2 linked regions of the Homo sapiens genome follow. The protein of the gene in region 1 interacts with the protein of each later gene in a pairwise test. Each region holds a gene or a part of one and is shown in the gene's direction. Other genes may lie near its edges.

Region 1 (7,032 bases):
ATTGAGGTCATCTCCTCTACACGCCATTGGTTGACTCCAGTCACGTGATTGCTTTTTGCAATAATTTGTGGGGAGAGTCGGCCAAGTTTTGTGAGACTTGACAGGTATCAAATGGTTAAATTTCCTCTGACTCAATCAAGTTGGCTGGAAAGACATCCTTTTCCATCCTCTGCCCCCTCCCTCCCTCTCCCCATAAAAGAGCAGTGAGTGGGAGGAGCTCAGAAGCCCCAAGAATTCCCCAAGCCCTCTCCCTGCTGTGGTCCAGATTTGCCGGAGGGGTTGGAGTTTTGGTTGCTACCCAGGGCTGTGCCCACCCAGCAGTGCGGCAGCCCCAGGCAGGGGCGTGCTCCCAGTGCCAGGCTCACAGTGGTTTCTCCAGTGATGTTACTCCTGGGCTGCTCCTGCGGGGCTGGCCAGAGCCTGCTCTTCACCCCGCCCTGCAGATATTTCTGGACTCCCCACCGCCACGCCTCAGCCGAACACAGCTGGTGCTGCCCGTCCCGCCCTGCCTTCTCGCTGCCTGGCCTGTCTGCCTGCCCTGCCTCCTCCCTGGACCGCCCCATCCCACCTCCTGGGAGATAGACCTTGATAGGTGGAGTAGGGGCTGTGCAGAGCAGTGAGCTGCCCCGCTGGAGGGCGAGGATGAGTCCCCAACACTTCCCGAGGGCACCCACATAGGAGCCTGAGCCAAGCTGCATCTGGAACAGTGCAGGACCTGTCCCTGCTCGGTCACGTGACGTGGCTCTGGGAATGGCCTTGGGAGACAATCACACATGGGAATGGAGGGGCTGGCACTTGCCTGGCCTGTGGTGAGCATCAGCTGCACCATCTCACTGCACCCTCACCCGGGCCTGAGAAGGGACAGAGCCTAGGAGTCAGGGGGCAGGGATGCCAGGCAGATGTCTTCCATTCCTGCTGTGGGGCCCTAAGCCAGCAACGGCCCTTCGCCTGGCATGGTCACTCTTTGACTTGTCACAGTTCCCTCTTCTCACTTCCCATCGGTTTATCAGCTCTCCCCGGGGAGAAGGCCAGGGCCCTGAGCTATAGTCCTGGCCTGGGGGCCCAGTCCAAACAGGGTCCTGGGAGCAGAGCCATTCCATTTGGCCAACACAGCTTTTAAGTTCCTTTCTTTCTCCTTCCCCCTCCATCCTTCCCTCCTTCCTTCTTTCCTCCCTCTCTTCCTCCCTCCCTCTCTCCCATCCCCTTCCTTCCTTCCCTTTGTCCCTCCATCCCTTCTCTTTTTACTCCAGTGCCTTCAAGAGGGATGCAGCAGCCACAGTCTCCACCACTTCCCAGGCCTCTCTGCACATCAGCATAACCTGCCTGGACCCTGAAGGCTTTTGCCTTTTCACCTGGGTCGGGCCTATCTTGGGGAGACCGAGGCAAATGGGATGGGACCCCTCGTTTCCTTCCAGGAGCTCACAGTCTGACAGGCAGACCATTGTGAATTTTACTCAGGGCCCTCCATGGGATGTGCTGGGTCTTGCATCCGACAGTCTGGGAGGGTTAATTGCACTGGGGAGAGCTGGGGAGCTTCCTGGAGGAGGTGATGTGAAACTGGCCTTCCCTCCTTCTCTTCTCCTTCCTTTTATTGCAGAAATGACCCTCCTTCGTGGGGTCCTCCTCCACCTCTGGCTTTAATCTTGCTCTCTTCCCTCCTTCTGACAGGACATTCCACACCGTGTCCCAGAGCTCTCCTGGGCGGCTCCCTTGGCTGGAAAGCCCCTCATTCACGGGCTTGGCAGGTGCTCCCAGTATCTGTTTGCCAGGAGAATACAAGTGCCCCTAAGGGAAGTGGCAGATCCTGGCAGCTTCCTTAACCCTTTCTCTGCCCCCGTTCCTCCTGTTTCCCTTTGACGAGCCCTGCTGGCCTGGCACAGTGAGCCCAGTCTGCACAGCTCTGCAGACAGCTCCACAGCTGTGGATTAGGATGTGGGGGCCTCTGGGGGTGATTTTGGGTACCTGTGCTGGGTGACAGGTGGTCGGATGTGGGAGGGGACATTCCTTGGCAATCAGATTACTGAACTCCAGGCCAGCAAGGTCGGTGTGAGGCTGGAGCTGAGTTTCCCTGCCTCTGAGGGGCTGTCGGATGGGCTGGGCGAGGACAAGTCACTGCACCTCAGCTTCCCCTCGTGAACATGGGGAGAACCACATTTCTTGCTTTGAGGCATGGTTGTGAAGATCGATTGAGGCCACACCTGTGAGAAGCTTTGCAGGCTGCCTGACCTGTACTCGGCACTGGCTGTGTGGGGACGTTACCATCGCCCCCATCTTCAGTGGTGGTTTTGCAGGAGGAAAGAGCAGTGTTCCCACAGCCCTCTTTAGCTCCCAGAAGCACAGGCGAGGGAGGTGTGCCTGTGTGGGGCCTGGCCCTGCTGAGACCCCTGGGGCTCTGCTGTTGCCCGCTTAGCCGGTCTCTGCTGCCCCTTTGCCTTCCTTGGCCTCGGTTCTTTGCTTTCCCACGGAACCTCATGGGGTCATTGTCCAGGCCGTGGGGTGTGATGCATGTGAAAAGCTTTAGAAGCCAATTCCAGGGTTTGCACTCATGTGTGCGTTTGTGTGTATGTGTGTCATGTGTGCGTGTGTGTGTGTGTGTGTCAGGCCGTGTGCACGTGTGGACAATGTGTATATCTCCCCGCGATCTGCCTGCACACATGTGTTTGTGGGTATACATGTGTGTTTGAGTGTGCACGCATGCGCATCCTTGCACATGTACCTGCGTTCACATGGGTGTCCCTGGCTGACTCCACGTGCAGGGCCTGGTGTGTTTGAGGAGCTCGTGGCAGGGCGACGTTTCTCTCCTTACCGTGACCCGGCCCCAGCTGGACGGGAGAGGAGGAGATGGCACGTGGAACCTGCCGGTTGAGCGTGAGGCTGTGGGTTCTGCCGCAGGGCAAGCCGGGTCCAGCTGGATCCGACAATTTCATGTCTTTTTAAACTCCCGGGAGGGCGATGTTACATTATGGCTCCCGCTTCTCCTCTATTTACATTCTCCCATATAATTGACTCGTCTGCTCTCTCTCAGTGCTTTGCCAAGTGTCGGTTTTAAAGTTTCTGGCCTGGCTGGTGGATGTGCCTCGATCCTGCAGGCGGAGCCCACAGCGGCCCTTGTGGTGGTTACTACTGAGTGTCAATTTGATTGGATTGAAGGATACAAGTATTAATCCTGCGTGTGTCTATGAGAGTGTTGCCAAAGGAGATTAACATTTGAATCAGTGGGCTGGGGAAGGCAGACCCACCGTTAATCGGGAGGGCACAATCTAATCAGCCGCTAGCAGGTGTAGAGCAGGCAGAAAAACATGAAGAGACGAGACTGGCCCAGCCTCCCAGCCTACATCTTTCTCCTGTGCTGGACGCTTCCTGCCCTCGAACATCGGACTCCAAGTTCTTCAGGTTTGGGACTCGGACTTGCTCTCCTTGCTGCTCAGCTTGCAGACAGCCTATTGTGGTGGGACCTTGTGATTGTGTAAGTCAGTACTTAATAAACTCCTATATATATATATATAATATATATATATATATTTCTATTATTTCTATTCCTATTAGTTCTGTCCCTCTAAGGGAACCCTGACTAATACAGCTCTGCTCATAGGCAGGACTGCAGGACTGCAGCCACCAGGACATGGCATAGGGACCAGGGTGGCCTGCTGGCAAAGGACAGGCAGCCGGCAAGACTCCTGGATTCCTATCCTGGCTCCAGTGTCTACCAGCAGTGCATTTTCCCACCCTGTGCCTCACTTTCCCCATCTGTAAGAAGGGGGTGGTGACTGTAACTACAGTAGGGTTTTAGTGATGTCTAATGTATTACTCATATAAAGCACAGAGTAAGACCCCATTACTGCCCTTGCCACCAGGGGCCCCAGTGCAGCAGGAGGCTGTGAGGTGGTTTGGGGCCCTCTACTCGCTGGCCTGTGCGTGCTCCCTTGCCATCCTGTGTGGTGTCACACTGCTGCTTCCCTCACTGGGTACGCAGGAGAAAAGGTAAGGCAGTAAGCACCAGTGGTCAGTTCAGCGGATCGCTCGCTGCTCGCTGCCTCTGAGGCTCTGAGCCTGAGCCAGGAAGGTGCATCCTTGGGCAGTCGCGGGCCAGGCCAAGTTCAGCCCGCAGAGTGGCCCTCCCCTGCCTCCTCTGGCCACTTGCTCTTTACAAGGAACGGAGGTCCAGGAGGTGGATGGACCTGTGCACCTCCCAGCTGCAGGCCTCTGTTCTGTCTCTGTGATGTGATGGCGGTGAGTGGTGGCTGATCACTGAAAGGAGGTGTTCCAGGCAGGGGTGGGTGAAGTTGGTGCGGGCGGGGTGTGGGGGGGGCTTTGCCATCTCAGATGTTGTTTTTGTGCCAGCCCAGCCCCAGGCCACTGGAGAGAAGACCGTGGAATGAATGAATTGGTGGCTGGATGCTCAGTGGAGGGGTGCGGGTCACTTTGAGTTATCCATGTCAGATAGTCCGAGCCGTCACACCCTCAGCTTCCTATCAGCAGAGGAGTTTTTCTGGAGGAATCTCAAACTAGGTAATAACCTCATATTAGCAGTAAATGTCACCATCCTTTGATGACTCAGACCTAAGAAATGGAACCACAGCCTGACCCACTTTTCTCAAAATTTAATTACTCAGAGCTCTGGGGACATGGGCTCAGCCTATTTGCCGAGATGTCTCTGCCCATGAAATGGAAGCTTCCTTTATTTTCTGTTTCCTAGACCCGTGTTCTTGTAGGGAAATTAGCTCTTCTGTCCTTTTCTTCCTTGCCAGGACCTCGGCAATAGGGTTTCTGGTGGCCTCTTTTTTTTCTGTAAATAAATGCCACAAAATGACATAAAAACAGTGTGGTGATTCCTCAAGGATCTAGAACCAGAAATACCATTTGACCTGGTGATCCCATTACTGGGTATATACCCAAAGGATTATAAATCATCCTACTATAAAGAGAAATGCACACGTATGTTTATTGCGGCACTGTTCACAATAGCAAAGACTTGCAACCAACCCAAATGCCCATCAATGATAGATTGGATAAAGAAAATATGGCACATATACATCATGGAATACTATGCAGCCATAAAAAAAGGATAGTTCATGTCCTTTGCAGGGACATGGATGAAGCTGGAAATCATCATTCTCAGCAAACTAACACAAGAACAGAAAACCACAAACACCACATGTTCTCACTCATAAGTGGGAGTTGAACAATGAGAACACACGGACACAGGGAGGGGAACATCATGCACCAGGGCCTGTTGGGGGGTGGGGGGCTAGGGGAGGGAGAGCATTAGGAGAAATACCTAATGTAGATGACAGGTTAATGGGTGCAGCAAACCACCATGGCATGTGTATACCTGTGTAACAAACCTGTGCGTTCTGTACATGTATCCCAGAACTTAAAGTATAATAAAAAAAATTTTTTTAAATGTGTGTATGTAGCAGGAGTGACTTAAGTTGAAAAACTCTGACCCTTGCATTGGGAAACAGTGATCTCCCAGTGAGAACACATGAGCATCGTAACCGTCTTCCATTGGAAGCGACCGTCTTCCATTCTGCTGGCGGGTGGCCTGGGGGACCAGCACTCTTTCCCGTGTGTGGGTACAGAGGGAACAGATGGGGTCCATATGCAAAGACATTGGGTGTGTCAGCAGGTTTGCTTGGCAGCATTTATGGACCCCTAACATGAGACGGACCTGTGCGGGGGGCACAGGTGAGCGATAGGCGAGCCGTCTGTGCCCTACTGGGTCTTCCGCTGCGGCGGGGGAGTCAGCCATCTGAACAGGTGGTTTTACCCAGTGAGGTGCAGTAGAAGTGGGAGTAGGGTGTGGCCAAGGCCAGTCTAGGGAGGCACCTGCCAGCCCCATGGGGCGGTGGCCAGTCAGAGACCAGCCTGCTTCTCCAGGGCCAGCCCTTTGGGATGCATGCGCCTGAAGGCAGGCTCCCATTGGTGGATGCAGAGGGCACGTTCCCGTGCATGTTCTTCCTCTGGCTCTTGTTCATATTTTCATATTTACACTGGACCCTGCTCTGAGGGTGCTCCCGTCAGCACCTGTGATCCTCAAACCCGCCCTTCGTGCCAGGTGGGATCGGCCCATTCTGCAGATGTGCCAGTCTAGCTCCTTGAGTCCAGCTGGCACAAGGGGATGAAAACCACCCTCCACGTCCCAGTGGTCACACGGCCTGCATGTTGGTGCAGGTCCGTACAGTCACATGCATGGACGCAAGCAGCCTCTGTCCATTCTCAAGGCCAGGTGAGGGCGGCGTGGCTCCGCTCCCTCCTGTTTGTTTGCTGGCGCCAGCCTCCATGGCAGCTGGGTCCCAGTGCTTCAGAAGGGGAGCCATGGCCCCAGGCAACAGTGCGTACCTGAAGCCTCTGCCTCGGTTTCTTCTTCTTCCTTTCAGATGCATAAAAATGCACATCAAGCCTGGGCACCATCTGGTGGCCTCTTTATTTTTTAAATAAATGCCATAAAATGACATAAAAACAGTGTGGCGATTCCTCCAGGATCTAGAACCAGAAACACCATTTGACCCAACAATACCATTACTGGGCACCACCTCTACAGAAATTTCAGAAACAATTAGCCAGGTGTGGTGGTTCGTGCTTGTGGTCCCAGCTACTTGAGAGGCTGAGGTGGGAGGATCACTTGAGCCAGGGAGGCTGAGGCTGCAGTGAGCTGTGTTTGTGCCACTGCACTGTAGCCTGGGTGACAGAGTGAGACCCTGTCTAAAAAAAAATGAAAATAAAAATAAAAATGTACACCAGAGAGCACGGTGGTCTCAGCTTTTCCAGCTGTAGTTTCGTCTTTCTTCTGGAGGACAGAGGCCCAGCCATCTGCATCCTCAGCACACAATTAGGTCAGTCACTGGGGCCTGTTGTGGGGGTGACAGGCAAGCCTGGGTGTGGGGAGAGCCGGCCCGTTGCCCATGGGCTCTGCACAGTGGGTGGGTGCAGGTGCGATGACAGGCGCGGGACAGAGGGGCCCCTGGGGGGACTTTTCTCGGGTCCTCTGCCTTCCCACCACTGTGTCCATCAGGGACATTCCCAGGATCT
Region 2 (5,115 bases), about 20 Mb from region 1:
GGTCCATATTTTCTGTCTCTCCCAGGTGACTCCATGGCCTACCACAATGGCAGATCCTTCTCCACCTTTGACAAGGACACAGATTCAGCCATCACCAACTGTGCTCTGTCCTACAAAGGGGCTTTCTGGTACAGGAACTGTCACCGTGTCAACCTGATGGGGAGATATGGGGACAATAACCACAGTCAGGTGAGTGGACCGTGAGGGCCCAGAGCAGGCCAAGCTTGGGAAGCTGGAGGGGGCTAATGGAAGTACAATTTAACTCCCTATCCTAGCAGAGACTAGGAGGCAGGAACCTTACTTGTATGACAACATGTTTTTCCCAAGGCAGTGAGCAATCTCAAGGACACTGCAGGCCAGGTAAAATAGAAACAGCACAGGTTAACCCTTGACAGTCCCAAGGACAAACACTGGTCAAATGGATTCCAAAAACAGAACGCTTTACTCAGACAAAATCTCTGTCTGAACCCCAAAAGTAAAGCAGATAAAAGTGGAGGCCATTTAGGTGAAGCAGGGTTGATGACACAGAACCCCTGGCCTGGGGCATCTTTGGAATCCCAAGAACACCTTAAAATGAAGTCCACAGACTTTAAATCTCCTCCTTTTGTGAAGAAACCAAGGCCCAGAAAAAGCTGACTTTCCTGAGGTCACAGAGTGAAGTTGGCAGCAGAGCCAGCTCTCCCCACTTCCAGCCCCTGGCATTTTCCCTGCACCACACACACCTCTAGCACTTCTACAATCACAGAAACAGATTTTTTTCGATCCCTTTTAGAAATAGGCGAACGGATCAAATTCAGTAATCTCCCTTACTCTGAGCCTTGCCTACACTGGCACATTCCTGAAAAGTGTAAAGCTGTGTGGGACTAGCCACTTAATCATAACCAAACCCCTGCCCAGGTCCCTCCACAGAAGTTAGTCACCATCCCTGGGAGGAGGGCTGGATCTTCCCTTGGGGCCACACCACGCTGATCCCTGGACCACAAGGATGCTTATGAGGTCTGCTCACTGGAATCCCAAGGACTTTATAAAAATGCAAAGGGCCAAATTCCACTTTATGATAACCCCAGGGATTCTGATTCAATGATCTCAGGCAAGACACAGCATCTCATTTTTTTTTTTTTTTTGCATATTTGCATTTTTGTTGTTGTGGGGTCAGGGGGGAGGCAGTTGATAGACTCCACAAGCGATTCCTGACATGCAGCAGGTGTTGGGACCTGTTGCTTTTCAATATTAGTCACTTTGATACACATGTTTATGCCCTAATTAACTGCTAGCAAATGACACCTGCGACCTTAAGTGTAGACCTTACCTTACATAATTTCTGGCACTTTTCAAAGCACTGTTACCTTCTGTATCTCAAGGGTTTATCATTTTTACCCTGTGCAGGAATTAGGATGTGGTTTTTCATGCCTGTTTTACAGAGGAGGCAAGAGTCACAGGACATTTCTTGACAGCAGTCCTGTGTTGTTTCCATCTTATTGTGTTATTTCATCAATATTTCCATTCTGAGCATTATTTTATCATCTTTATTGCCTTGTCTCAAAAATACTCGTATAATACAAAGTTCTTCTGGGAAAAGAAAAAAAAAACCAACAAGCTACATGTTAGAAAGCAAGCCTCTCTTTCATCCTTCCATTCAATTATGGAAGAAGAAAGAGATGACATGGAAAGGAGCCACAGGAGGGGAGCCCCAGCTCCAGCTCTGCTCCTCCTGCTGTGTGGCCTCTGCAAAGTCACTCTCCCTCTCTGGCTTTAGTGCCCACCACAGTACAAGAAGGCGTGGCTTCCAACCCTGAACTATCAGAGGAAAGAACCAGGGCAAAGGCAGGCAGCATGTGCACCAAGCTGTTGGACTACCATACTCACTGTAACTGAGTAATTACAAGCGGATTTGCCCATGAAATGAATGAGCCATTCTTAAACCTCACATCCCTGTAAGACTCAGAAACTGCCCATGTCAGTGAATGCCAAACAATTAGAAGCAAATAAAGTGTCTCTATTTTTTTCCCATCTCACTAGCCATTAACTTCCCCACAGTGGGGCAAGGGGCCATGTGGGGTTTCATGGATTGACTCTACCATCTGCAGACTTCGCTGAAGAGTCAAAGTTGAAACCTGGAAGCCAAGACACAGATACAGTTTTTTCTTGTAGAAAGCTTTGGCCAAAATTTCAAGGATATTTCCCCCTACTTGAGACTAGGGAAGTAATATTTACCAAGCACCTACGACGTGCCCAGCTCTGTGATAGCTCCTTTACAAACTCATTTAATCTTCATCTCATCTTTCAAGGCTAACATTATCAGATCTTAAGAAAGAAAAAAAAATAGTAAAACCGAGGCTCAGAAGATATTGAGAACTTAAGACTATTTATCTCTCAAGTAAGAACACTGATATTTAACCCTATATGTCAAATTGTAAAACTGTGTTTTGTTGAGCTGTTCGTTCTGCTATTCCATACCAAACCCCTATCAAAATACTCCATAGGAATCTCGTGAATTACAGACACACACACACACACCATGTATGTAGCTATTCAATTCTAGAACTTCTAATAATGACCTGAACTCCTTCAGAACCTATTCCTAAGGACGGCAGATTTCATCAGCCACCATTTTGCCTCAAGAGGAAAGACCAAAGCTCCATGCAAACTCAGGCGACTCTTGACTCAGGTGAAAAACTGGGTCAGATTCAGCCAGTTCCTTTGAAAGTTTCCACAACCCAGACCAACAGAGAGATAGGCAAGAGGCAGCTGTGATATACCAAATGGTCAAATTGAAACAGAACTCATTTAGTTTGAATGACTAAATAGCAATGATCAGTGAACACCTCGCCTAACAGTAACCAACCTGGAGGCCTTCTCTCTCTCTCTCTCTCTCTCTTTTTTTTTTTTAACAGGGCGTTAACTGGTTCCACTGGAAGGGCCACGAACACTCAATCCAGTTTGCTGAGATGAAGCTGAGACCAAGCAACTTCAGAAATCTTGAAGGCAGGCGCAAACGGGCATAAATTCCAGGGACCACTGGGTGAGAGAGGAATAAGGCCCAGAGCGAGGAAAGGATTTTACCAAAGCATCAATACAACCAGCCCAACCATCGGTCCACACCTGGGCATTTGGTGAGAGTCAAAGCTGACCATGGATCCCTGGGGCCAACGGCAACAGCATGGGCCTCACCTCCTCTGTGATTTCTTTCTTTGCACCAAAGACATCAGTCTCCAACATGTTTCTGTTTTGTTGTTTGATTCAGCAAAAATCTCCCAGTGACAACATCGCAATAGTTTTTTACTTCTCTTAGGTGGCTCTGGGAATGGGAGAGGGGTAGGATGTACAGGGGTAGTTTGTTTTAGAACCAGCCGTATTTTACATGAAGCTGTATAATTAATTGTCATTATTTTTGTTAGCAAAGATTAAATGTGTCATTGGAAGCCATCCCTTTTTTTACATTTCATACAACAGAAACCAGAAAAGCAATACTGTTTCCATTTTAAGGATATGATTAATATTATTAATATAATAATGATGATGATGATGATGAAAACTAAGGATTTTTCAAGAGATCTTTCTTTCCAAAACATTTCTGGACAGTACCTGATTGTATTTTTTTTTTAAATAAAAGCACAAGTACTTTTGAGTTTGTTATTTTGCTTTGAATTGTTGAGTCTGAATTTCACCAAAGCCAATCATTTGAACAAAGCGGGGAATGTTGGGATAGGAAAGGTAAGTAGGGATAGTGGTCAAGTGGGAGGGGTGGAAAGGAGACTAAAGACTGGGAGAGAGGGAAGCACTTTTTTTAAATAAAGTTGAACACACTTGGGAAAAGCTTACAGGCCAGGCCTGTAATCCCAACACTTTGGGAGGCCAAGGTGGGAGGATAGCTTAACCCCAGGAGTTTGAGACCAGCCTGAGCAACATAGTGAGAACTTGTCTCTACAGAAAAAAAAAAAAAAAAAAATTTAATTAGGCAAGCGTGGTAGTGCGCACCTGTCGTCCCAGCTACTCAGGAGGCTGAGGTAGGAAAATCACTGGAGCCCAGGAGTTAGAGGTTACAGTGAGCTATGATCACACTACTGCACTCCAGCCTGGGCAACAGAGGGAGACCCTGTCTCTAAATAAAAAAAGAAAAGAAAAAAAAAGCTTACAACTTGAGATTCAGCATCTTGCTCAGTATTTCCAAGACTAATAGATTATGGTTTAAAAGATGCTTTTATACTCATTTTCTAATGCAACTCCTAGAAACTCTATGATATAGTTGAGGTAAGTATTGTTACCACACATGGGCTAAGATCCCCAGAGGCAGACTGCCTGAGTTCAATTCTTGGCTCCACCATTCCCAAGTTCCCTAACCTCTCTATGCCTCAGTTTCCTCTTCTGTAAAGTAGGGACACTCATACTTCTCATTTCAGAACATTTTTGTGAAGAATAAATTATGTTATCCATTTGAGGCCCTTAGAATGGTACCCGGTGTATATTAAGTGCTAGTACATGTTAGCTATCATCATTATCACTTTATATGAGATGGACTGGGGTTCATAGAAACCCAATGACTTGATTGTGGCTACTACTCAATAAATAATAGAATTTGGATTTAAACCCAGGTCTTCTGGCTCCAATGTTCCTGCTCTTTCCCGGTCCCTTAATGAAAATCTCTCCTTCTTTGGGGAAATGTGTGCTGTGGCAAGAGAGTGAAGGTTGCAGAATGGGATATGGGGGCAGTTCAACTGGATGCTTCCTCAGGCTTCTACAATCCTGAACTCTGAAAACTAGGAAGAATGTCTATTAGGAATATCGCCTTCTCCTCTACACTGCAGTCCCCAAAAAGGGAGCAAGCCCATATTCCTCCAGCCTCAGACTGAACACATCTAGTGATGGGGAACCCATTGCCTGGATGGCAGGTCTGTTAGTCCTCAGCAAATATAGTGAGTCAGAACTGCTCAACGCATAACATTTCTCTTTTTAAACAAGGGTATATGGGGGGAGAGTAATTCCCAGTTCATTCTCTTAGGGATTTTCAGAAAATTGACTTATTTAATAAAATAAGTCAAGTTTGGGCTGATAGGCCTCATTCAAATGGAATGTGATGGCTCTGGAGCAAGGATCAGAGGAATTTATGGTTCCAGC

What was found. The genes of interacting proteins can lie anywhere in the genome.
Region 2: the proteins of COL5A1 (region 1) and TNC interact in a two-hybrid assay, tested with the Homo sapiens proteins (one study listed by IntAct).

The regions. Positions count from the first base shown.
Region 1 is NC_000009.12:134,644,799-134,651,830, forward strand, and holds part of COL5A1 (collagen alpha-1(V) chain isoform 1 preproprotein), read left to right. Parts: intron 1-3,255; exon of another isoform or gene 3,256-3,466; intron 3,467-3,592; exon of another isoform or gene 3,593-5,408; intron 5,409-7,032. UniProt on the Homo sapiens protein: Type V collagen is a member of group I collagen (fibrillar forming collagen). It is a minor connective tissue component of nearly ubiquitous distribution. Type V collagen binds to DNA, heparan sulfate, thrombospondin, heparin, and insulin.
Region 2 is NC_000009.12:115,019,047-115,024,161, reverse strand, and holds the end of TNC (tenascin isoform 1 precursor), read left to right. Parts: intron 1-25; coding exon 26-189; intron 190-2,894; coding exon 2,895-3,005; 3' UTR 3,006-4,587; downstream 4,588-5,115. UniProt on the Homo sapiens protein: Extracellular matrix protein implicated in guidance of migrating neurons as well as axons during development, synaptic plasticity as well as neuronal regeneration. Promotes neurite outgrowth from cortical neurons grown on a monolayer of astrocytes.